Linked DNA regions of Homo sapiens: regions 1, 3, 4 and 5 are each linked to region 2. Evidence: fine-mapped expression QTL. A gene starts in region 2. Each other region holds a variant in brackets. All regions are shown on one strand. Distances are between the middles of the regions.

What was found. PIP is the estimated chance that this variant, and not a neighbour inherited with it, causes the effect.
Region 1: its variant is fine-mapped to the expression of PLBD1 in whole blood (TOPMed, PIP above 0.99).
Region 3: its variant is fine-mapped to the expression of PLBD1 in whole blood (INTERVAL, PIP above 0.99).
Region 4: its variant is fine-mapped to the expression of PLBD1 in whole blood (TOPMed, PIP 0.90).
Region 5: its variant is fine-mapped to the expression of PLBD1 in whole blood (TOPMed, PIP 0.96).

The regions. Positions count from the first base shown.
Region 1 is chr12:14,516,967-14,522,072 of GRCh38, forward strand. The region is part of intron 6 of PLBD1 (phospholipase B domain containing 1); the gene reads right to left. Among named protein-coding and RNA genes, the nearest start is that of PLBD1-AS2, 11 kb to the right of the region's middle. The variant A/G (reference allele first, on the strand shown) is at 2,670.
Region 2 is chr12:14,565,429-14,570,534 of GRCh38, forward strand. It overlaps PLBD1 (phospholipase B domain containing 1), which reads right to left and starts at 2,455. Exons shown (of 11, transcript NM_024829.6): 1 at 2,154-2,455. The coding sequence starts at 2,268. PLBD1-AS1 (PLBD1 antisense RNA 1) reads left to right here and starts at 2,304. Exons shown (of 6, transcript NR_120465.1): 1 at 2,304-2,378; 2 at 2,591-2,764. RefSeq lists silencers at 1,300-1,476, 2,216-2,325 and an enhancer at 1,721-2,402.
Region 3 is chr12:14,528,769-14,533,874 of GRCh38, forward strand. All of the region lies in intron 6 of PLBD1 (phospholipase B domain containing 1), which reads right to left. PLBD1-AS2 (PLBD1 antisense RNA 2) reads left to right here and starts at 1,371. Exons shown (of 5, transcript NR_187784.1): 1 at 1,371-1,473; 2 at 2,274-2,442. The variant T/C (reference allele first, on the strand shown) is at 2,552.
Region 4 is chr12:14,508,064-14,513,169 of GRCh38, forward strand. PLBD1 (phospholipase B domain containing 1) reads right to left here. Exons shown (of 11, transcript NM_024829.6): 7 at 3,448-3,648; 8 at 3,197-3,337. Among named protein-coding and RNA genes, the nearest start is that of PLBD1-AS2, 20 kb to the right of the region's middle. The variant A/G (reference allele first, on the strand shown) is at 2,086.
Region 5 is chr12:14,639,197-14,644,302 of GRCh38, forward strand. It overlaps GUCY2C (guanylate cyclase 2C), which reads right to left. Exons shown (of 27, transcript NM_004963.4): 17 at 4,378-4,510; 18 at 1,886-2,023; 19 at 666-754. Among named protein-coding and RNA genes, the nearest start is that of GUCY2C-AS1, 24 kb to the right of the region's middle. The variant A/T (reference allele first, on the strand shown) is at 2,786.

The sequences.
Region 1 (5,106 bases), 48 kb before region 2:
AGGCAGAGGTTGCAGTGAGCTGAGATCACGCCATTCCACTCCAGCATGGGCGACAGAGTGAGACGCCATCTCAAACAAAAAAAAAGTCCTTTAAATAGGTTCCATCTTTTATTCCCACATAGAAGCTCCACCCACCTGGCATGGCAGGAAATCCTTTGAGTTCACTGCTCTTTTAGTTTTTTGTTTGTGTTTGTGTTTTGAGACAGGCCATGCTCTGTCGCCCAGGCTGGAGTGCCGTGGCGTGATCAAGGCTCAAGGCAGCTTCAAACCCCCAGGATCAAAGGATCCTCCCACCAGGCCTCCTGAGTAGCTGGGGCTACAGGCATGCACCACCACACCTGGCTAAATTTTTTAATTTTTTGTAGAGACGGGGGTCTTGCTATGTTGCACAGCCTGGTCTCAAACTTCTGGGCTCAAGCGCTCCTCCTGCCTTGGCCTCTTAAAGTGCTGGGATTACAGGTGTGAGCCACCACACCCAGCCGGCTCTTTCAGTTTTAGCCATTTAATTTAAATCCAAACTGCATCATTTCTAAAAAAAAAAAGAAATGGATATTTATAGTTAGATATATTGCCTTTGCACCCAGTCCTCAACCACTGAATTGTGTGACCTTGACCTGTTTGACTATTTAACTTCTCTGAACTGTTTATTTTAAAAATGCAGACAAAATACCCTCCTTGAGGCTTTTTATGGAAGGCAGAATTTGTAAAAGTCAGTATGCTTTGCCTCTCGACTGCATTAACATGCCACAGGCTCAGACTGTTTTGTGTAAAGGATGTCAAAGAACTGCACTTTGTCTAAAGAGAAGTTTGATGTTTTGTATGCTTGTTAAGAAAATACAATACTAGAAGTTAATGGTAGACAACTGATTTTAAAAATACCCTTCTTGTTAGGTTTTTATGAACATTAAATGACATAATAAAAACAAAATGTTGGCCTGGCACAGTGGCTCACGCCTGTAATTCCAGCACTTTGGGAGGCTGAGGCAGGCGGATCACTTGAGGCCAGGAGTTCGAGACCAGCCTGGCCAACATGGTGAAACCGCGTCTCTACTAAAAATACAAAAATTAGCCGGGCGTGGTCACACACACCTGTAATCCCAGCTACTTGGAAGGCTGAGGCACGAGAATCACTTGAACCTGGGAGGCGGAGGTTGCAGTGAGCTGAGATCACACCACTGCACTCCATCCTGGGTAACAGAGTGAGATTCTGTCTCAGAAAACAAAACCCCCAAAACAGACAAAAACAAAATGTGCACAGTGTCAGGGACAGAGCCAGGTACATGGTAGGGGCTAAACACATATTCAGGTTTTTTGTTTTCCTTTCTATTTAATAACTAGTTGAACACAAACAAGCTTATAGTAATTTATTTAAAACTTAAATTCTGCCTAATTCCCATAAAACTAGTCAGGTCCCATTCATGTTATTTATCACAAAGGATTTGCTTCAAGTAACAAGTCCTGTGCTGAACACATAGGTTTTGCATCTGAAGTCCCTTGCTTACAATTCCTGAACATCTTAGACTCCTGTTCTCAAATCTAGGGTATGAAAGGGAGGGCAGGATGAATAGAAAGCAAGTTACAATAAGAACTGTGATCTCTTAGGCAGCCCCCACCTCCTCCTTGTTTTATTGCCCGTCTTTCTTTCCTACAGTTCCTACCATGTCCACATCAAAGTGGACATAATCTATCTCCTTACTGTTTTCCCTCTAATCCTTCTTTCTTCCTTCCTTCTTTTCTCCTTCCTTCCATAAATATTTATTCAATGATTATAATATGCAAGGCTCTGTGCTCATCCTGGGACACAGACATGAATACAGAATATGGGCTTTGAAGAAATTATGCACAGGGTACCTAGGAAGCTCAAAGGAGAGATAACTTACTTGGCCTGAAGGTTAGTAAAACCTTCTAAAAGGAGCTCTTGTGCTACTCTTTGTTAATATGAAAAGCACTAGGGTATTATGTATTACCCAGCCAAAAAAAAAATGCTCGTATCAAGGGTGAGTATTCCAATAATAGCAGCATGATAAAATTGAGTGATTTTCCCACAAATAATAATTATAAAACTGTATAAAATTATTTAAAGCAATGATCTGAAGATACTAGGAATGACCAAAGGCAGAGAGAAACAGAACATTAGTACAGCATTGGTTAAGATGGAGTATGAGGCTTCCTTGCCTGTGTGTATTCCTAAACCCGTGATATGGACTGAATTCTGTTTCCTCAAAATTCATATGTTGAAGTCTTAACCCCTAGTACCTGAAAATATGACTATATTTGGATACAGAGCATTAAAAAGGTAATTAAGGTCAACTGAGGTCATATGGGCAAACTCTAATTCAACATGACCGGTGTCCTTATAAGAAGAGGAAGTGAGCCGGGCGTGGTGGCTCATGCCTGTAATCCCAGCACTTTGGGAGGCCGAGGCAGGTGGATCATGAGGTAAGGAGATCGAGACCACCTGGCTAACAGGGCGAAACCCTGTCTCCACTAAAAATACAAAAAATTAGCCGGGTGTGGTGGCATGCACCTGTAGTCCCAGCTACTTGGGAGGCTGAGGCAGGAGAATCACATGAACCTGGGAGGCAGAGGTTGTGGTGAGCTGAGATCGCACCACTGCACTCCAGCCTGGATGACAGAGTGAGACATCATCTTAAAAAAAAAAAAAAAAA[A/G]AGGAGGAAGTGATGCCAGGTATAGCCCACACAGAGAAAAGGCCATGTGAGGACACAGTGAGAGGGTGGCCATCTGTAGGCCAAAGAGATAAACCAAACCTGTCAATATCTTGATCTTGGACTCTCAGCTTCTAGAACTGTGAGAATAATTAATTTCTGTTGTTTAAGCCACCCAGTCTTTGTCATGGCAGCCTTAGCAAACTAATATATAGCCCATACCCAACTCTAGTTATGGAAAACTAGAGCCATTCTGGCTTGAGATGGTGAGATCAAAGTCTAGTATTGCAGAACAGCTGAGAATTTAAGAGGAAAATTTTGGGAGCAAGAGAACCACAAGAAGAGCAGAGATCCAAAATCTGAATATGAACTGTGTCCTGTTCCCTGACTGACCACTAACTGTGCATGAATGTGGGAAATGCCAGGGAGCCCAGGGTAAAAACAGAAAGAAATGAGAAGGGTTTTCCCTTGTAAGACAGAAATGTTCTAGAACTGAGATAGGTGAGTTTGCTGCAACTTACACTGCCAGGGTTCCCAACTCATATGCAGCTCAAATTCCTCAGGCTCTCAGAGGACAAAGGTAAGAGCTGGAAAAGCAAATGGGAATATAGGGGAAACCTTAGGATCAAGGAAATCACAAAGAGAGTTAGCTCTATAATATGAATTTGAGCTGCCAACATCTTTCACTGACTGCTAAATTACACAGATGCAGGAGCAACCTCCAGAAGACCAGGTTGAAGCAGCAGTGTTGAGGAAGGACATTGGTTGCTGCACACTGTGCAGGTGACATATGTTGAAGTTTGAGTGCAAGCAAGGTAATTGCCTGTTAAAAACAACAACAAAAAAAGTAAAACAAGTGACTTCAGCAAGATGTCTGACTAGAGGTGCCTAACATTCATTTCCCTACAAAAAAAAAGGAACCAAAATGATGAATAAACAACTACATTTTGACTAGAGTATCCAAAGGAGAACACTAAAGTGTTCCGAAGGAGTACAATAAGGGAGGGGCAGAGACCCAGTGGAGCATGGAGACTTGGGATGGCTGCATAAAAAAGAGAATGAAACATTCTGCCTTTGCCACTTCGTCTTCCCAGTCAAGGTCGGTATGAAACCAGGAGGCAGTCTCCCTACGGAGAAAACGTGAGCAGGAGAACTCCCAGCAATCTCCATTAAAGATGCAAACACCTACAGTCTTTGCTGCTTGAGAATTCTGCAGTTTTCACAAGTCATGAACCCATTCTAGGGAGCTGCCTGGCATTCACATGGCTGTATTACTCCAAAGAATGAGCCCACATTGTGCCTCCTTCTCCTCTGTGATCTAAGCTGCTGATGTACAGCACTATCTTGAGACCGGTGCCACTACTATAGTACACTGTGCTCTGGAGGGCCAGTAACCACTGTTTGTTTCTCCCCATCCTGAGGCTCTGCTGCAAGTACACTGTGCTTGTAAACAGTAGCACACCACTCACCAGTTGAGCAGCTACTGTTTCCTATCCACCAGGAATAAGCTGCCTACGATGCACTCCATCTTCCCCATCCCTGTGGCACAGCACCTCAACCTCAATTACTCAGAGCATAGGCCCAGTGAAACAGCCATAACCTTGGTGCCTGAGCCCATGTGGTGTCCTGACGCCCAAGGAACAGATGATCCTACCCAGCAGGAAGGCCACACCTTACCCTGAAGGAGCAGTCCCTATGCACTTGCGGTGTGTGTAACAGCCTGGCACTCCTGCCCCCAGAGGACAGACTGTGTCTAATCCTATTGGAGTAGGCCTTGTGCACCCGTGGCGCATGAAACAAACTGGCACCCTTGCCACAAGCAGAAAAGCCATGCATATGATTTGACAGAGCTGCCATACAAACTCCTCCAGGCTAGGATGCCACTGAGGCATCCATAGAAATTGCTAACATTGACTACAGCTGAAAAAACTGCATGGTGACTACACTACTGCATCCACCTGGAACCACAGCCAATGCATCCTCCACAACCGACACCTTAGGACACATCTGCAGGCAAAAATCTTTTCCTATGATAACAACTCTATACAACTGGAAGAGGCATCCATTCTATCAGATGCCCAGACATCAGTGCAGGGACACAAGAAATATGAAAAAGCAAGAAAACATGATACCACCAAAAAAACACAATAACTCTCCCATAACTGACCTTAAAGAAATGGCAATTTACTAATTGCATAAAAAATTTAAAAATATGATCTTAAGGAAAATCAATGAGATTCAAGATAATATAGATAGGCAATTCAATAAAATCAGAAAAGCAAATCATGATATGAATAAAGAATTCAACAGAGATATCATTAAAAAAAAACTCTTGGAGCTGAAGACTTTAATGAATGAAATAAAAAATATAATGGAAAGTTCCAACAGCAGACTACACCAAGCAGAATAAAGAATTTCTGAACTGAAGACAGCTCTTTGC
Region 2 (5,106 bases):
GTACCCAGCCTGGGGGGAAAATAAAAATAATAGGAAATAATAGTAAAAAAAAAAAAAAGTAAAATTAAAAATTGAAGAAGTTGTTTTTGGATAGATAGATGCATATGAGTGGATATAAAATCCATTCCAAGGGGATGGACATGCAATCCCTTTAGTGTTTACTGAATTCCTACTAAGTTCAGGGTACTGAGCTGGGTACTTCAGAGAACACATGACAAGTGAGAGGTAGCAAGTCCCAGTTCTTTACTCTTTGGTTGTTCGCAGGCTAGTAGAAGGGTAAAGACAAAGACCCAAAAAGCCTCAAGGGAAAACAGATTAATGTGGGTAGGACAAAGGAAACAGAGATCTCATCTGCTGAAATAGTGTGGCATCACCAGATGTCCTTAACACCTAGGTAAGTAAGAATCCTTTCCAGATTGCTGGGCATGGTGCTGTCAGGATCACTTCATCTCAGAAATGTCCTTACTTTCTGCCTTGGCTCCAGAACCTCCAAGCATGGAGTCAGCTTCCTGTTGGAGGAACTGTTTAAGATGCAGTTTCTTACAAGGTGGTACCTTCTTGAATAAATAGTGCTCCATCTTCAGAAAAACAACGCCTGTCTCACTCCTCAGGCTGCCCCCTCCACCTACAAAAACACTTAATCTCACTCGTCCAAAAAAACAGAAAAGGAATAAAGATTTTAGCCAGCATTCCAAACACAAAAGCTACCTCCACTTTTGGGACCCTCCCCAGCCTCCCCCAGGTACCTCTGAATGAGCTGTCTCCCTAGACTAGAAGTAGACACCAAGGCCACCTCCATAGTTTAGGCAAAGAACACAGAAAATCACGAGTCAGGAGCCTGTGGGTACATCTGATCCCACAGACTGGAAAGATTTAAGATTGAAGAGTGATAACTAAGCAAGTCTCAAAAACGAAGGCTCTTGATGATGGAAGGTAGTGTAATAAGAATCAGTACACATATTTAGGAAGGGGCATCCTCCCCCAAGCCCCACCCTACTCTTGTACAAGGTCAGCACAGAAAAGGGGATTATGAAATAAGACAAAATTAATTCTCTTATTATTACTTTAGAATTCTTTCAAGTCCCTTAGTTACAGTTCATAATCTTCACCTCCTTAGGAACGGAAATCATAAATCCAAGGCTTTTTAATTTAATTTAATTTAATTTTGGCAAAGGATGTAGATTTGCATGAATACCTGTAGAGATAAAACCTGTTTTTCCAAGAGGGAAGTAGTTAAGAAAATGCCCTCTGGCATCCCCTAACTCTGTCTTATTTGCTGTGTTATCTTTATGCGAATTACTTCTGATCAATCTCACTTTTCTCATCTGCAGAATGGGGAATATAATCCTATTTAGGATTATATATTAAAAAAAAAAAAAAAAAACTGCCGGGCGCGGTGGCTCATGCCTGTAATCCCAGCACTTTGGGAGGCCGAGGCAGGCGGATCGCCCGAGTCAGGCGTTCGAGACCAGCCTGTCCAACATGGTGAAACCTCGTCTCTACTAATAATGCACAAATTAGCTGGGCATGGTGGCTGACGCCTGTAATCCCAGCTACTTGGGAAGCTGAGGGAGGAGAATCGCTTGAACCCGGGAGGCGGAAGTTGCAGTGAGCCGAGATCACACCATTGCACTCCAGCGTCGCCCACAGAGAGCGACTCTGTCTCAACAACAACAACAAAACCAAAAGGCCCTTAAGCCCACTGCCAGGCACGTATCAAACTGACAATCGTGCAATCGTGATTTTAAGCCAAAGTCAATGTAAATTTTTAAAACACAAAACAAATGGCAAGCCGGAACCATACCTCCCTACAATCTGGATAAATATATTTAGATGCCCATTGGCTGGAGTTTTTAAGACCAGCCCAGGCTCTGTGGGCCAAGAATCGGCGCAGGAGCGAACCGATTTGTTGGCCAAGAATTCGGGCCAAAACTTGTAAAGTTGGCAGACGCACTCGCCATGCCCTTCTCAAGTGCCCTCGCTGCGCAGCCGCAGGGCTGGAGCGAGACCGCCGGCCGGAGGCGCGTTTCTCTGAGTTCACCCAGGAACCAGACGCCCGCTGGACGTCAACTCGGCCGGACGCGGGGCACGGGCGCTAACAGGCTCCTAGGAGCCTCCCCGGGCGCCCCCCGCCCAGGGCGCGCTCTGCTCACCTGCAGGTTTCGGCGGCTCCGCGGTGACTAACAACAGCGGCAGCAGCAGCAGCAGCAGCAGAAGCGGTGGCGGCTGTGGCAGCCCCGGGCGCCCGCCCGGACCGCCGCGGGTCATCGCTCCACGGCCGCGACCTTCCTCTGCGGGATCAGGCGGCCGCGGTGGCCCGCGGTGGCAGAAGTTGCAAGAGAGGCTCCTGGCCTACTCAGGGGCGCCGCCTCTCCGAGGTGGGGCGTCCTCAACTTTCCTCTTTCTTGAGCCCGGCCTGCTCCGGGCTCTGAGGGGCGAGGACGCTTCACGTGGTGGCCTGGGGCCCACCCCGCCTAGGAAAGGCGGATCCTTTACGTCTGACCCTCTAGCAACCCCTGGGCCGGTCTGGGAAAGTTCCCCAGCTGCACTTCTGGGAAATGCAGAGGCTGCCTGCCGCTTTCTTTCGCAGTTTTGCGGCCCAAGGCTTGGGCGAATCAGTTCACATCAACACCCCTACTAGCCTCTCCCTCCGGGGTCGACCATTTATCTCCAGCAGCGGACCAGGCGCCCGGGCCAGGGTGACATGCGCGCCCTGCCTACACGCAGCTCGGATCCTCTGCTGTTTCTGGAGAGGCCTCCACAGGTGCGTTTTCCTCAGCGATTAGCGTACCCCTCATTCCCAGGCTGTTTAACCTAAATCCATGCGCTGTAGCTCAGATTTTTTATCCTTTTTGCTTCCTCTTCGTTGGCTGGAGCCACCACAGGAGAGTGATTCAGACGGGGCTGACACTAGACACACTCCTACGTTTCTGTGGAGTCCCCATTTCTGTGTGGGGTCAGTTAAAAGTGACATTGTGAAGTAGTCAAAAGTTATGCCTTGGGTGATATTGTGAAGTTGGCACCGGGTGCCCTAGGTGACATTGTGAAGTAGGCAAAAGGCATTTCATTCATTCACTCAGCATTGGCTGGGCCCATCTTATACTCCAGATACCAGTGATATAAAGACAGCTAAGAGCATGCCTCACCACAGACAAAAAGAACTAAGCCAGCCGGGCGCCGTGGCTCACGCCTGTAATCCCAGCACTTTGGGAGGCCGAGGCGGGCAGATCACGAGGTCAGGATATCGAGGCCATCCTGGCTAACACGGTGAAACCCCGTCTCTACTAAAAATACAAAAAATTAGTCGGACACGGTGGCGGGCGCCTGTAGTCCAGCTACTTGGGAGGCTGACGCAGGAGAATGGCGTAAACCCGGGAGGCGGAGCTTGCAGTGAGCCGAGATCGCGCCACTCTACTCCAGCCTGGGCGACAGAGCGAGATTCGTCTCAAAAAAAAATAATAATAATAACAATAATAATTTTTTTAAAAAAGAACTAAGCCATATAGATAAACAAGTACACAGAACTTGCCATTCTACTGTGTTAGAGCTATGTTTAAGGTGCAGTGGGAGAGGGGGAAGGAGGGAACAAGCCACCTCTCAGATGGGAACCTCAGCACCCCACTCTTCCTCTTGGCCTTTCTTCTAAGCTTAACCTAGGTGTCAAGGAGAGATGAGAAGAGAGAATAAGCAGTACCTTTCATAACGGGGAAAATGTAATTGTTAGAAAAGATAAAGAACCTAAAAGTTCATCAAATCTCTGTGCAAATTGTGAAACACAAGTCACAATTTTGTGGTCCAGGCACCATGGCTCATGCCTGTAATCCCAACACTTTGGGAGGCCAAGGTGGGAGGATCACCGGAGCCCAAAAGTTCAAGACAAGCCTGTGCCACACAGGGAGACTCCAACTCATTTTTATTTAATTAAAATTAAAGTCACAATTATGTTTAATGGCATTTAATGAATGAAGACATCGAGGACATTGTAAAAGTTGCACATTTTCCTTCAAGTTAGAAAATTAAAATGAAGAAAAATTAAAACGAAGACATCGAGGACATTGTAAAAGTTGCACATTTTCCTTCGTTAGAAAATTTAAATGAAGAAAAATTAAAATGAAGACATCGAGGACATTGTAAAAGTTGCACATTTTCCTTCAAGTTAGAAAATTAAAATGAACCAAAAATGAAAATTTTGGTTGTGTTATGATGGGAAGAGAACCACATTAGGATGTTCAAGGAAGTGGTGCCACCCCAAATATTTGAGTCATATTGCCCTATACCACCCTCCTTCACCTTACTAACCCTTCTGATCCAAGGAGCCAAGTGTTCTGATGAAGTAAGATGCATATAAATGCCTAATGTGAACCTTGAGGCATTCATTCATCTATTATTTGTCATCAAATATTCGTTGACTCCCATGTTCCAAGCACAGAGCAGTAGACAAAACAAAGTCCCTGCCCTTGCAGAGCTTGCATTCCAGTAGTGGGGAGCAAATTATACATATAAACAAATTAATTGGATCAGGACTTCTCCACATCAGCACTATTGAAATTTTGGAGCAGACAACTCTTTGTTGTGGGGGGGTTGTCCTGGACACCCCTTGGCCTTTACCTACTGGATGCTAGTGGCACCCCCATTGAAAATGTCTCCAGACATTGTCAAATGCTCCCGTAGGGGGGCAAAATTGCCCCCTAGTTGAGAATCACTGAATTAGATGATAAATCTTGCTTTCTTTAAATTATGCCAGTTTTACATATCTGGGAGGAAAATGAGCTGCAAAACTCACACATAGTTAGGAAAATAAATCTTGGGACCCCAAAATCACTAAGCCAAGGGAAAAGTCAAGCTGGAAACTATGTCAGGCAAACCTGCCTCTCATTTTATTCTGAAATAAGATAGCTACAAAGATAAGAAGCTACATACCTCCCTCACAGTTTGCCCACAAGGAAATTCCCTGTGGACAAAGGGAAGACAGAACTTAAAAGTCATCCCTCTGAGGCTCACCTGAGACAAATGCACATCTGATTGCTTCCTCTGCAGTATTGTTTATGTAAAAATGCAGACTCCCTGGGCCAGACTAAGTTGTGTATTCTGTGGAAGGCTGATCAA
Region 3 (5,106 bases), 37 kb before region 2:
TCATGAATGATAATGGGGACTTTACAGATCCTACAGACATTAAGAGGTTAAGAAAAACATTATAAATAGCTTCATATCAATAAAAACAATAACTTAGAAAGAAGGGATAAATTCCTTGAAAGATACATTTTTAAAACTAACTCAAGAAGAGTTAGAAAACTGAAATAGTTCTGTAGCAGTGAAAGAAATTAAATTTACAATTAATAACTTTTCAACAAATAAAAACCTTCATATCTAGCTTCACGCGTGAATTCTATTAAACACTTAAAGAAGAAAATGGGCTGGGCACAGTGGCTCACACCTGTAATCTCAGCATTTTGGGAAACCAAGGCAGGAGGATCACTTGAGCCTAGGTGTTTGAGGCTGCAGTGAGCTATGTTCACACCACTGTACTCCAGCCTGGGGGACAGAGTGAGACCCTGTCTTTAAAAATAAATAAATAAATAAATAAATAGAATAAAATAACACTAATCATATACATGCTCTTAAAACACTTAGGAGAAAGAAATAATTCCACATTTAGGATATGAGGATAAGCTTATCCTAAAACAAAAACCATCATAAGAAAAGCAGACTACAAACAAATATGTCTCATGAATGTAAATGAAAAAAATCATTAACACGTTAGTAAACTGAACTAAAAATAAATACAGAGAATAACACATCATGACTGAGGATTAACCCAGGAATTTCAAGTGGTTTAACATCTGAAAATCAATCAATGTAACTTATCATATTAATAAAGGAAAAAATTCATATGATCTTTTCAACAATTGCTGAGAAAGAATTCAGAAAAATGCAACACTCATTTATTGATAAAAATATTAAAGAAAGTAGGAAGAGCAGGGACCTTCCTTAACATTATAAAGGGCATCTACAAAAAATCTGCAGTTAACATCATACTTAATGGTGAAAGACAATACTTTTCACCCTAGGTCAGGAATTGGGCAAGGATTTGCATGCTCACCACTTATGGTCTCCATTATTCTGGAGGTCTTCTCCAGCACAATCATACAAAAAAACAATCAAAGACATACAAGGGATGGAAGAAGTCAAACTGTCTTTATTTAGAGATGTCATGATTGTATATATAGAAAATCCCAAGGAATCTACAAAAAAGCTATTAGAAAGATCTCAGGATAATAATGTACAAAAAAATCGTAATACATTGTGGTAGTTTTCAAATTTCCACAAATTCTTTGGCACCCTTCTCTTTAAAAGGTGGATTCTAATCGCCTTTCCTTGAATGTGGGCTGGTCATAACACCTTGCTTCTAATTAATAGAACCTGGTGGAAGTGAGCGTGTGTGACGTCTGAGGTGAGGTCACAATAGGCATTACTATTTCTGCCTTGTTCTTTTGGATGGCTTCGTCTGGAGCCAGGGGTCTTGCCATGAAGGACATTCAAGCAGTTCTGAGGAGAGGCCCAAGTGAAGAGGAACCAGTTGCCAGCACCACCCTGTCAGCTATGTTAGTAAGTCGTTTTGGAAGTGCATGTTCCAGTCTCAGTTAAGCTATCAGAGATTTTAGCCCCTCAGTCATTGAGTCTTCCAGCTGAGGCCCCAGTCACAGTAGAGACAAATTATCCCCACTGTGCCCTATCTAAATTCCTGATCCACAGAAACCATGAGTAACTAAATCATTATTGTTTTTAGCCACTAATGTTTGGAGCAATTTGTTATGTGGCAATGGGTAACCAATAAATACATATGAGCAACAAACAACTGAAAAAAGAATAAAAAACATTTTGATTACAGTAGCATCAAACATTACTTAGGATTTAACTTACTTAAAGGTATGTAAGACCTAAATACTGAAAACTACATGATATGACTCAAATTAAAGACTGAAATAAACAAATAGATTATATTAGTAGATTGGAAGACTCAATGTTGTTGACAAGTAAATTTTCTCTGGATTGGTTAAAACTATCAGATCTTTGTGCTGAGGTCTTCACACAATTGTATTGGCTGCCATTTCAGTGCCGTCATTTTCTAGTGATTTATCTCTTTGTCTTACCTCCTTGATTATTAATTTGCATTGCCAAAATAAGTAAATGTGTGGGGAGGGCTAGTGCAAGGCTTCTCCATTCCTTACTCAGCCTTAGCTGTTACTAGGCAAACAGACCATGTATTCAAAACCCTTCTTGTTAGGGACAGAAACTCCTAGAACAAGGCCATTCAAAGCCACTTTCCTTTGGGTATCCAGTGCCTCAGGCAAGTGTTTTTTGTTGTTGTTGTTGTTTTGTTGTTGTTTGTTTGTCTTTTTTAACAGGGCCCCTGCCTATATAAACAATTTGATTAAAAACATATATTTAAAAATTCATCAGTACATGTGAGATATGATGATTTATCATTGAAGATTTAGGATGATGGGCAGAGAAAGGCAATCTGTTTTGTCTATTGTCCAATCAGTGCACGTGAAGATTTGTTACAGTATCCAGGTACCATCTCTTTGTATTCTTTATTATTAAATGCATTGTTCTTGGCTAATTTCCTATTTTTTGTTATGAGAAAAAGGTAGCAATACTGTTATTACAAAACCATGACTTT[T/C]TGGAACCTGTTTGTTTTGAAACAACACAGATCTCCTTGCCTCTGCAGTTCCCTAACACCATTTTCTTAATGACTTTGCGACATCTACCACTCTACCTGTGAATCCTGGCTTCTAATGACTCAAAAATCCTTATTATGCTTTGTTAATGATGACCACAAATGCAAGCCTTACCCAGAGTGTTAAAAAAATTGTGAATGATAATTTGTTTTATGGTTACTAAAGCTACACTGGGAATTTTACAGTGTAAACATAGATCGACATGTTTTCTGTTGGACTCTTCAGGCTAATTGCTGCCTCCCTAGAATGTAATCTCTTTGTTGTTGTTCTTGAGACGAGGCCTCACTCTGTCCCCCAAGCTGAAGTGCAGTGGTGCTATCTCGGCTCCCTGCAACCTCTGCTTCCAGGGCTCAAGCTGTTCTTCAGCCTCAGCCTCCCAAATAGCTGGGATTACAGGCATGAGCTACCAACACTCGGCTGATTTTTTTGTATTTTTGCAGAGACGGGCTCTTGCCATGTTGCCCAGGTCTCAAACTCCTGAGCTCAAGATAATCCGCCCACCCTGGCCTCCTAAATTGCTGGGATTACAGGCATGAGCCTGCTTAGCCTGTTTAAATGTTAAGTGCATGTATTTGAAAGTAGGTACATAAAAAGATAAAAGAACAGGCTAAAAGCCCCAGGAAAATTTAAGTAAAGTTTTCATAATTTAAGGCTTCACAATTTAAGTCAAGTCTTCATGAGTCAAATCTCTTTTCATGCTGAACCCTCCCCCACCTTCACTCCTCACCCACGGGCACCAGTGGGTAGGATAGGTGAGAAGCCTATAAGTCGAGCTGGAAGAGCTGTCCCAATCACACCAGAAAAATCCATCTGGCTTAAGACTGACCCAAGACAGTAGGAAGTCACATCACCAACTGCAGCAAAAGATTTGCTGCAAAGGCCCGTTTGTGTTGTGGAGCAAGGTTCTCAAAAGGCCTCAGAGGGGCCAGGCCTAGCCCGCCCCAAGGACTGACCGACACATGGTACAGAGCTGCAGGGGTGAGGAGGCCACGACAGGGGCCAGATGTGGAGCTCATAGGTCGAAGTTCGCTTTACCGTCCTCCCCTGCTGCATGCTGAAACCCGAGGGTAAGAGGTGGTTTTCAGTAGCATAGAGCCCTGAACATATGCTCTGACATGAGAGTCACCCCAGGTCATCGTGTGACCACCGTTCTGACAGCTCAGTTATGCACCATCTTGCAAAAAATATATACTGTGAGGGCCAACTAGAGGAATCTGCTTACCAGGACCAGGCCATAGGCTTGAGTCCCAGAGCTCCTTAGGGCATCTTGTTGAACCCATGCGTGGGCAGGAATGGAGGAGAAGAGCCCCCAGATAGGGAGTCCACATGCGTTGCTTTCTGGACTCAGAGAAGCTGACCTGGATGGCTCTGCCACCTTGGTCAGTCTTGGGCACTAGAAGGGGATTTTGAAATTTTCTGGAAAGGAGCTTTCTAAACTAGATGCACAGAGACACAGGTCAAGATACTGCCAGCCTGGCCAGTCTCAGGATGCTGGAGGGGGATTTAGGTAATTTTCATGAAGGTAATTCCAAGCTGGGAGGGTGGGGTTCCTGTGCCCAGACCTAAGGGTGGTACTGAGGTTATCAGCACCTGGTATACTTTGGTATACTTTTGACCTTCCCTGGGTATTGCATGTTAGCCTCTTTAGGTGAAATAATTTCCTCAATCTCCACTTTGTATTTTAGAAAAGACTAAAAAAGACCAAGCCTGTTAAACAACTCCATCAAAGAAAAACAAGGAAGCCATCCAGCTTTGTTCTGGACTCAGCAGCTAAGATGGCATGAGCTTCATCGTAAAGCATAGTTCTATGTCATGTCTACTGGATGAATCCAATGTGGCTGGTCCCTTAATAAAATAAGTTGTAACATAAATGAGACTGCACATGTTTTCCTGTTTGGTGCTGAGAACAAAGCTGCCCAGTTAGAGAAAATATGAATCCCACTGTTCCATTGGCTCCTGTAAAAATGTTTTGGGGTATATATAAAACTGTCTGTTGCTCTCTTGGAGATTCAATTGCTCCAAAAAGCTCTACATATTATCTATGAAATCTACTTGTGTATCTCATCTGGAAGGATACATATGCAAATGTTAACAGGATTATACGTTTCATAAGAAAATCTTCCATGACCTTCTCCATCACTACCTCTGGGATCCAGGACTGTTAACACTACTGGAGAGCATTGTATTCCACAGAGATTTCAAAGCAGTGCACATAACATCTGAATATTGCATTTTATCACAAAGATGAGGAAGAGGAAGAATACTGGACTGCTCTGTCTCTTGCTGTCCTTAAATGTCAGTGTAATAGAATGTGAAAGAATCAAAGCACAGTCTAACTCAGAGAGAGGAGTCCCCAGTCCCCCTCAATGCTAAAACAACTAAGCAAACTAAGACAAAGATGAAATCAAATTGGTTTCAAAGAAAGGATCAGGTCACAAGGACAGAGAAATACTGGGTTATGCCCTTGGTCAGAATTCCTGATAGGGGCCGGACATGA
Region 4 (5,106 bases), 57 kb before region 2:
GACATTCAGCCTTGCTAATTCTGAGACAGAGCCAGCATCAGAAGAACTGAGATATGGATGACATTGAAATTAAAGAAGAAAAACAGATTTGTTGCTAAAACATATCTAGGTTATATAGGCTCAGGAATTAGATTGCCTGGATTTGAAGCCTGGTTCTGCCATTATTAGGTATGTGACCTTGAACAAATTGCTTATCCCCTTTGTGCCTCAGTTTCTTCATCTTCATTAACTATTCAGCATTAAGCATCTTCATAAGCATGAGCATGAAATGCATTCAGATGGAGTGCTTACAATAGTATCTAATACTTGGTAAACATTAGATTATTATATTTCTCTTTGTGAAAACAGCTCAAATGAATAACGAAAATGTCTACTTTATACTTCACATTTCATGAAGCTTCGTGATTTAAAACAGAGCAACTTGGCCTGGTGCAGTGGCTTGTGCCTGTAATCCCAGCACTTTGGGAGGCTGAGGCAGGTGGATTGCTTGAGCTCTGAAGTTCAAGACCAGGCTGGGCAATATGGCAAGACCCTGCCTCCACTAAAAATATAAAAAAATAGCCAGGCATTGGGGTGCACACCTGTGGTCCCAGCTACTCGGGAGGCTGAGGCCCGAGAACCGCTTGAACCCGAGAGGCAAAGGTTGTAGTGAGCCGAGATCACGCAGCTGCAATCTAGCCTGGGTGACAAAGCGAGACCCTGTCTCAAAATAAATAAAGAAAATAGAGCAGCTTGTTTAATCTCACAAAAACCTGATGATGTATAAGTATTACCATCCCTTTTTTAAACAGAAGAAACAGAGTTTCAGAGAGGTCAATTGTCTTCCTTGGCTCACAAAACTTGACAGAATACAGGCCTTCTAACTAAAACATCCAGGGCTTCTATCACCATACCACAGTTGCTTAAATACGTTAGGAGATGTGCCCACCCCCGACCCCGACGCCCCCGCCTTTTTAATGGCTATATGATATCATGTATTTGTTTGGGCAAAACATGTTTCTTTCTGAGCTTTTCTTTACTCACAGTAAAATGGCAACAATAACACTTATGGGGTAGTATGTTACAAACATCAAACAAGAGAACATAAGTAAAAGGCCCAGAAGAGTGTCTAGAATGCAGTAGGTACTCTGAATTTAACTCTCTGTTCTTCTCTCCTCTGGCAAAGAAAAAAAAATACAGACAGATCATCATCAACTCTTTTTAGTCTTAGGGAGTTTCAAGGGGTCTAGGAATGGGACTGCAGAGAACCAAGTCTACCATTCTGTTATCAGCAACTGTCCAAAGAAGAAAAGACTACTTTAGCAAGCATCTCTCTCTCTTGAGGCATGCTATTATTTTCAGGCTCTTAGGAGCTGGGTTCTCTGTTTTGAATTGCTCTATGCTAAACAGTAACCACCTAATGATTTGACTTCTTGGATGGATTTTCCTAACAAGCAAAGAAGAAGGTAGGTCCACTGCTTGGTAGCATATGAACTGCTTGGCAATGAAACTCCCACCTTTTGTTTTATGCATAAGTCTTAGTGCATTTAGTTGGTGTGACCCATTCTCCACTGACAAGGCTCACTCTAGGCATCATTACAAAGTCAATTTGGGGACCTGGAAAACTGAGGACCAGGTCCTGATCCCTAGGGTCCACACTTTATCTCCGTTCTGTCCCTATTCATCTGCCAGTTGATCTATTGCAATAGTCTCCTAACTAGTCTCTTTTCTTCCCACCCAGTCTATTCTCCCTTGTCAGGAACTCCCAATTTCTAAAACATAAAGTCTGAACTGTCCAGTAGGATTTTTAAAGCTAACATTTTCTCTCAATAAATCTATCTATTTATCTTAATTAATTTTCATGACCATCCTGTGAAATTGTAGAGTTCCACACTCCCACATCCAGAAATTCTTGGGAGCCAGATGAGTCTCAGAATTTAGGGTTTTTCAGACTTTAGAACAACCATGGAGTGCATGGATTATATGACATTACAGTCTCTTTGGGAAACACCTCATAATCAAAGATGTTGATATTTCTGTAGCCTAATGTATACATGGTGTCTCTAAGAGGAAATAAAGACAATTTAAAAAAACAGGCTGGGCACC[A/G]CAATTTGGAAGGCCGACGCAGACAGATCACCTGAGGTCAGGAGTTCAACCTGGCCAACTGGTGAAACCCCGTCTCTACTAAAAACACACAAAAAATTAGCCAGGTGTGGTGGCACGTGCCTGTAGTCCCAGCTACTCAGGAGGCTGAGACAGGAGAATCGCTTGAACCCGAAAGGCAGAGGTTGCAGGGAGCCGAGATCGCACCACCGTACTCCAGCCTGGGTGACAGAGCGACACTCCATCTGAAGAAAAATAAAAATTAAAATTAAAAACCACTAAAAGTTTCTTTCTGGTAGTTTTTGCTGCCAAGTGAGTTCAGATCAGGTCATTTTCTTGCTACCAAGTGAGCTAGGCTACCAAATCAAAGCAAAACAAGAGAAACAAAATAATAATTTGTGGTTTTACAATTTTGGAATTTTAAAATTACAAATACGTGGTTGTGGACCTATATCACGATTCAGTTTTATAGATGAGGAAAATGAGGCTTGGAGAGATTCACTAATTTGCCTGAGATTTTAAGGAACTGAGATTTGAATCAAGGCAGTGAGCCTCCTGGCTTCAAATGTCTGGACTCCTTCTTGCCCACCAGAAGTGCCTTCTCTGACTCCACCCACTAACAGCCACGTTCTGTTTAGGTTCACCACTGGCCTAGGGACATGAGACCTGATGACAGCTCTTCCCATCCTGAGTTCCTGCAGCTGCTTTGAGTGCTTTGCTTCCCTACTAGACTCCTGAGTCCTTCCAGGTCAGGGATTCTGTATCCTTGCTTTTCTAGTCCCTGGGCCACAGTGGCACTCCAAAAATATTTGCTGAATTGAACTTAAAGCTTTAACCAGGAACACAGGAGAAAAGGTAACATTAGAACTATGAGAAATCATAGAGTCATGAATGCCTGATTTGCGTCCCAATCTGCACATTGTCCTATAAGAGTTTGAGATGTAGGTTTACATGTTGTGCTAAACCTGGTCATTCTGGTGTAATATAGCATCCCCATCCTGTCTTCCCCACCATACCCTCCCCCACCACACATTCACACAATGTGCATTCCCCTACCATATATGAACACACACATACTCATCAGGTTTTAAGACTTACGACATGAAGAAAGTACCTTTCCGTAGAACATCAGTTTGTTCAGAATATTCTACATATGTAGGAATTTGCTCCACAATGTACAGAGTGCCTTTGTCAAGACTGTGGTTCAGCTTTACTTTCTTCAGGTCCAGAACCATGTATTGATTGTTATAGGTGCCTGAAATATCAGGAAACATGAAGACGGGGCATGGGTATGACTTTACTGGTTAACAAGCCTAAATCAAAATATATGTCTGTGCCTAACAGTTATTCTGCAGGGTCACTTACCAGAGTTGTATTTTGAAAAGATGTCTGCCCACCTCTTGCCACTATCTGCCATCATATTGGCCACACGGACTCTTTGCCAGGACAGGAGAGTCTCGGGTATTACCTGCTTTAGCAGGGTTTTATTAAACACACTGTTTGTGGTCTGCAGCAATATCAATCCACTGCTAAGAATGTAAAAATCATCCAGAGACTCCAAAAACCCTACAGGAAAGACAAATATACACATCAGCATATGTATACATGGAACAGTGAACCATCATTATTGACAAAGAGCTTTACATACACAATGCATTTTGCAAAGTGTATCAGTTATTACTATCCTTGATCTGCAGTAGCCTCCCCCAGCTTTGGCTCACCTCTGTGGTAGTCACCCAACTGCCCCTTATAGAGGTGCCAAAAGAACTCCACCCCTGGATTCTCCATTGAAAATTTATTTTGTGATTTGAAATAACAAAAATATGTTAAATCCAGAACATTGCAAGCTTCCAGAATGATAAACAGATGTAGATCCCGACTTGCTAGGATTTTGCAGGAGAATTTTTAATTAGGGAGGGGATTAGCAGGGTTCATTAGTAAGAATATAAATGCCTTTTTTTCTTCTTTTCTACTTTCCTGTATTTTTCAAATTTTGTATAAGTCTACTTTTTTTTTTTTTTTGACACACAGTCTGACTCTGTCACCCAGGCTGCAGTGTGGTGGCATGATCTCAGCTCACTGCAACCTTGCCTCCTGGGTTCAAGCAATTCTTGTGCCTCAGCCTCCTGAGTAGCTGGGGTTACAGGTGTGCACCACCACACCTGGCTAATTTTTGTATTTTTAGTAGAGACCGGGTTTCACCGTGTTGGCCAGGCTGGTCTCAAACTCCTGACCTCAAGTGATTCACCCACCTTAGCCTCTAAAGTGCTGGGATTACAGGTGTGGGCCACCACACCCGGCTAAGTCTACATAATTTTTATAAATGGAAAAACATCTACATTTAGAAAAGTAAAGATGGTTTTGAAACTAGGGCATTGACACTCTTGGTCAATGCTTTTTTATAAATGTTGGAGGCAACACAGGAAAATCAGTGAAGCCACAGTCTTTTCTGAAGACCTATTTTGTGGTTTATACTGGGATGAGTATGGAAAGGATAGAATATCAGGCACAGCTGTAATAAAAAGAGAGGATATACTGTCATCAGTAACAGTAATGGAACAACTGTCAGTGTTAAACAGAAAAGGACCTCAGTGGTAGGGTTAGAAGGGGCCAGAGTGGTAAGTTCCTTCGGTGCATCCTGCTGAAGGGTTTTAAGGCCCTTACAAAACAGTCCCGAGGGAGCTAGCTAGCCCCTTCCACTATGTGAGGTCACAGAGAGAAGGCACTGTCTACGAGAAACAGACCCTCATTAGACACTGAGTCTTCCAGTCCCTTCATCTTGGGCTTCCCAGCCTCCAGAACTGTGAGCAATAACATTTCTATAGCTTATAAATTACCTAGTCTGAGGTGTTTTGTCATAGTAGTCAGAATGGACTGAGATGGTCTCAAATTTCTACCATGATTTTTTACCACTTTTATCATTTTTGCCATATCTGAGTACTATCTGAACTATCATTTAGTTAATATTTTTGTTATTTTTTAACTGACAAGTAAAAATTATATATATTTATGTTATACAAAAGA
Region 5 (5,106 bases), 74 kb after region 2:
CCGAGGCAGGAGAATTGCTTGAAGACGGGAGGCCGGAGTTGCAGTGAGCCAAGATCCTGCCACTGCACTCTAGTGACAGAGTGACAGAGCAAGACTCCGTCTCAAAAAAAAAAAAAAAAAAAAAATAGAGAATGAGATGTGTGCTTTAGAAGCCAGCTCATTCCTGAGTTGGGGAGTGGTGGAAAGGCACGGAGAATGCGGTAGGCTGAGGCTGGCTCCCAAAGACATGCTGCGTCCTAATACCTGGAACCTATGAATGCTACCTTATTTGGAAAAAGAGCCTTTGCAGATATAATTAAGTTACAATTCTTGAGATGAGGTGATTATTCTGTATTTTCTGGGTGGACCCAAATGCAATCACATATGTCCTAATAGAAAGGTGACAGAGGGAGAATAGACAGAAGAGAAACTGTGATCAAGAGGCAGAGATTGAATTGTGTGGCCATAAGATAAGAAATGTCAACAGCCATCAGAAGCTTCTGGAAGAAGTAAGGAATGGATTAGCCCCTTAGCTCTTCTGGAGGAAGTGTGGCCTTGCTGAACACTTGATTTCAGACTTCTAGTCTCCAGAACCGTAAGTGAATAAATTTTTGTTGTTTTAATCCATTACATTTATGGTAATTTTATAGCAGGCCAAGGAAATGAATACGGGAAGATATACTCACTTCTAGCTCTTTTTCCTCTGCTGTTTCCAAGAATAAATCTGGGCGGAAGGGTTTCATTCCATTGGAATTTTCCACTCTGAAAATCTTCTCTGGTTGGGTGAGAAAAATATAAATTACAAAGAAGAATACAGCATGAAGAAATGGAAGGAATTTCAACAGAAATCCAGTTGATTCACTCCCCTGGATGGCTCTTAGCTCAGTGAGAGTGCTGCAGAGCCTAGACCAGCACTCAGTAGACAGGTGTTGATTCAATGAGGCACCCAGTGAAAGGGTCTCATCCCACTTATAACCAGAAGGTTACCTTAAGGATAGGCTACCAGGTGGGGCACAGTGCCTCAAAGCTGTAATCCCAGCACTTCGGGAGGCTGAGGTTGGGGGATCACTCGAGCTCAGGAGCTCAGTCTGGGCAACATGGTGAAACCCCGTCTCTACATAAAGTACAAAAATTAGCCAGGTGTGGTGGTGTGCACCTGTCGTCCCAGCTACTTGGAAGGCTGAGCCATGAGGATTGCTTCAGCCCGGGAGGCAGAGGTTGCAATGAGCCAAGATCACACCACTGTACTTACTCCAGCCTGGGGGTGACAGAGCAAGACACTGTCTCAAAAAAAAAAAAAAAAAGAAAGAAAAGAAAAGAAAAAAAGAAAAAATGCTACTGTCGCTGTAAAACTCAGCTCAGGCACCACTGCCTTCAGTAGGCTTCTTCTGTCCATACTTTGACCCACCCTCTCCACGTCCCTTAGTCACCCTACTCCCCACCAAACAGTTAACGGTTAGCACGTAATAAATGCTCAGTAAGTGAGGATTGAATGAATGGAATGAAGCATTTTCCCTTGAGAGGACGTGTGGCCAAAAACTATACATCTACCCTTAGTAAGAACTAAAATATGTATGTCATCCTGTTAGAGTGATCTAGTTTAGATGTTAAGCAGGTACATTCTCTTATTGGAATCAAAAGGAAAGAGGACAATTGTAAACGAAGATTGTTAACAATGATACTGACAATAATAACACCTGGCAGTGTATGTTGTCTTATGCTTTTCAGTGCACCCTAATATTGAATCTTCCTTATATTCTTATAAAATGCATAATGCAGATGGGAAATCATTAATTTTGCATTTGAAGGAATTGTGATGTGGTTACAGACAGATTAGGGTCTCAGTAAGCCTAGAAAGCAGGTTGGCTCACTCCCAGAGGGGACACATGAATGGGTTTAGATGTACCATTCCGGTCCCGACAGCTCAAAGTGTAGAAGGTTTCTTTCCGCAGGATGATCTCCTGTGCGATGATCCCATAGCTGTACACATCTCCTTTCTGAGAGATGTTGGCTTGGCGGAGGTGCTCTGGAGCTGTCCACAGGTCTGTAAATGTAGACATTGAGATTACAAAGTTGAGGGGGGTGAGTGGTTCATAGGCCTCCAACCTGCTTTTGCTCTCTAATTCCCTACACCATCCACTCTAAATATGGGTGATAGCTTATAAGTGGCCTTGAATTGATATGATTCCAAATTTTTGAAAAATTTTTGCTAATCCTGGTGATCAAAGGTAGAACACACACCTTTTAGACTAACTATGAAATGTTAGGATTTGGGTGAGGTCATATGGCAATATGTTATTTAAAACTGCTAGGATCATAGTCTTGAAAACTCTCAAAGTTTACCTGGAATGGGGTCTGATTGTGGTAAATGCTCAGTAAATATATGTTGAATGAATACAGTAGAATATGAGAGGCTGAGGAATTTAGTAGTTTATGGGACATATGGAATGAACCTATGAAAGCCTTCAAAATACAAATTTTGGCCAGGCGTAGTGGCTTACGCTGGTAATCCCAGTACTTTGGGAGGCCAAGGCAGGTGGATCACAAGGTCAGGAGATTGAGACCAGCCTGGCCAATATGGTGAAACCCTGTCTCTACTAAAAATACAAAAATTAGCCAGGCGTGGTGGTGGGTGCCTGTAGTCCCAGCTTCTCAGGAGGCTGAGGCAGGAGAATTGCTTGAACCTGGGAGGTGGAGGTTGCAGTGAGACGAGATCACACCACTGCACTCCAGCCTGGGTGACAGAGCGAGACTCCATCTCAAAAAAAAAAATACAAATTTTATGTGTACTAAATTTATTTTATTT[A/T]AATTATTATAATTTATTAGTTAATGTGTATATGCATATTTAAATATAAATTTACCAAAAGAAGATAAAGACAGTACATTAAGACAAAGAGACTATGGCTGATATTTTCAAGGCATAACATACTGGCAGCCTGCAACTCAGCTAGGGTCCACAGTGGTGTTTTTGCTGGTTCCCACAGTATTCTTAAAAAAGTATCGCATGTAATTTACTCACAGTTTACTCCTGTCCCTGCCACTCCCTAGTGCTTACATCTAGTTCACTCACTTCACATGAGTGCAATGCTGTATTTAGCTCCTATAGATACTCGAGTTTTGAATCCTTATTACACACCTTATTTAGTAATAACGGGCATGCAATTAATTTTTCTTCAACATGCTTCGTAAGTTTTTCAGGATCACCTAGCTCCTTATAAACTTTTTAAGACTTACCTTCACCAGTTTCAATGAAACATGTATAGTTTCATGTTGTTAGGTGCAATAATATGTTTATGATGATGCACACTTTCCTTATTTGGTTCTCTGTCCAAATGTACATCACCTTTTTGAATTTGTGTCTTGTGAATTTTTGTGAATTGTGATTCATGCATAGTTGATCATAAAGGTTAGGGGTTGTAGAAAAGGTAAGTAAATCTACTTATGCTAAAATTTTAGGTAACTGATGCCATAGGTAGGTAGGTATAAGCGAGTGCTGTTTAAGATGATAGGATTTGACCTGTAATTTATCTGATTTGTGTCATGCTAGGTTATCTGATGACGATTTGTACTACTATGTCATGAACCAGGCTTGGCACAGGTCTTCAATAAGAAATTATTAGATTGAGTTCAATATCATATTATGCTTGAAATGGCTGTGGATGTAGGGACAGAATCGCAATTTTCCTTTTATTAAGGAAAAACGAAAGGATTGCAAAGTTGAATTAGAAATATAATTTGGTGTTTGGATCTAGGTAGTATTTTAAGGCAACATGAGTTCTAGATATCTGAGTCTGTTTAACTGTGAGTCATAGTCAAGAAAGGGTAAATGTTCAACACGAAAAGCCCTTTATACTTTACAAATCCGTTTTCTTTATGTTATCTTTTTTGACTCTCACCACAATCCTGAAAGAGGTAAGAATATATTTTACTGGTTAGAGTTTTTTCCTTAACATTTCTTATTACCACACATAAATGAATGATGTCTTGAATGGGAAATGGGTCTTCTGGTTTGTACTCTACCTTCTTGGACAAATCTGAGTCTCAGTGCTGTCCTCTATAAAGGAAAAAGCTTAAATTAGACGATGTCTAAGGTCTCTTCCTGCTCTAACCTTCTATATTTTTTTCAGCTAGTTCTGCTCCCACAAGCCATTAAGTTATTCATGATTTCTCAGTGTAGCAAGGGACGCATGGATGAAGGAAATCCACAGAGGACATTTGTTTAACTCAGGAAATACTCGTTGACTGACAAGTGTGAAGTTCTGGAGAATGAGCCAGCTGTTGTCTCTTGTGGCTTTAAGTGCTTATCTTCTGATCAGTATTACAATTTCCTGACCACGCTACATGGGTTTGAAAAAAAAATCAGTTAGGAAACTAGTGAACATTTCATTCATTACAGACCCTTTTTTGGAGGTAAAATGGAATTGCAGCCAAAATCAGTGATCTTCACCACCATTCTACTGTCCACTACGCAGTTGGTAGATTTCAGACGACCATGGACTTCTGTCTTACTGGAGTGCAGATATGACATTCCCTGTAATTTTTTAGATGATAGAAAAACAGAAATGTGACACACTTCAGCTGCTTGATTATTTTAAAGAAAAAAGTGACATTTGGAAACCATTTCAGCAGATGGTCACACCATCAGATTTTAATTTTAGTCCCACTATTTTTACCTTAACAATATTACTGAAGCCCTAATATTTGCCTACACTTTATATCTAGTTTCAAAGTCTGTTTAAATGACAGAGTAAAAGGGAATTGTCTAAAATATCTGCTTAAGTAGTTGTGTATAATATGAGGCAAAGGGTTGATTTTTTTTAAGTGTTTCTGCTTACCACTTATTTGGTCTGTGACCCTGGGTAGGTCTCTGGTCCTGTTTTACATGAATTTAAAATAAAAATATGAATAATAGTGCCTTGCTTTTCCAAAGGGGCAGGGTGCCAGGCTAGATTATTTCCTAAAGTGGAAGTGGTTTCATCCTATTTTGAAGCAATGTTTCATTCATTCTGTTTCAAAAGGGGAAGCCTGGCCCCCGTGATGGCTCATGCCTGTAATCCCAGCACTTTGGGAGGCCGAGCTACTCAGGAAGCTGAGGCAGGATAATCGCTTGAATTTGGAAGGCCGAGG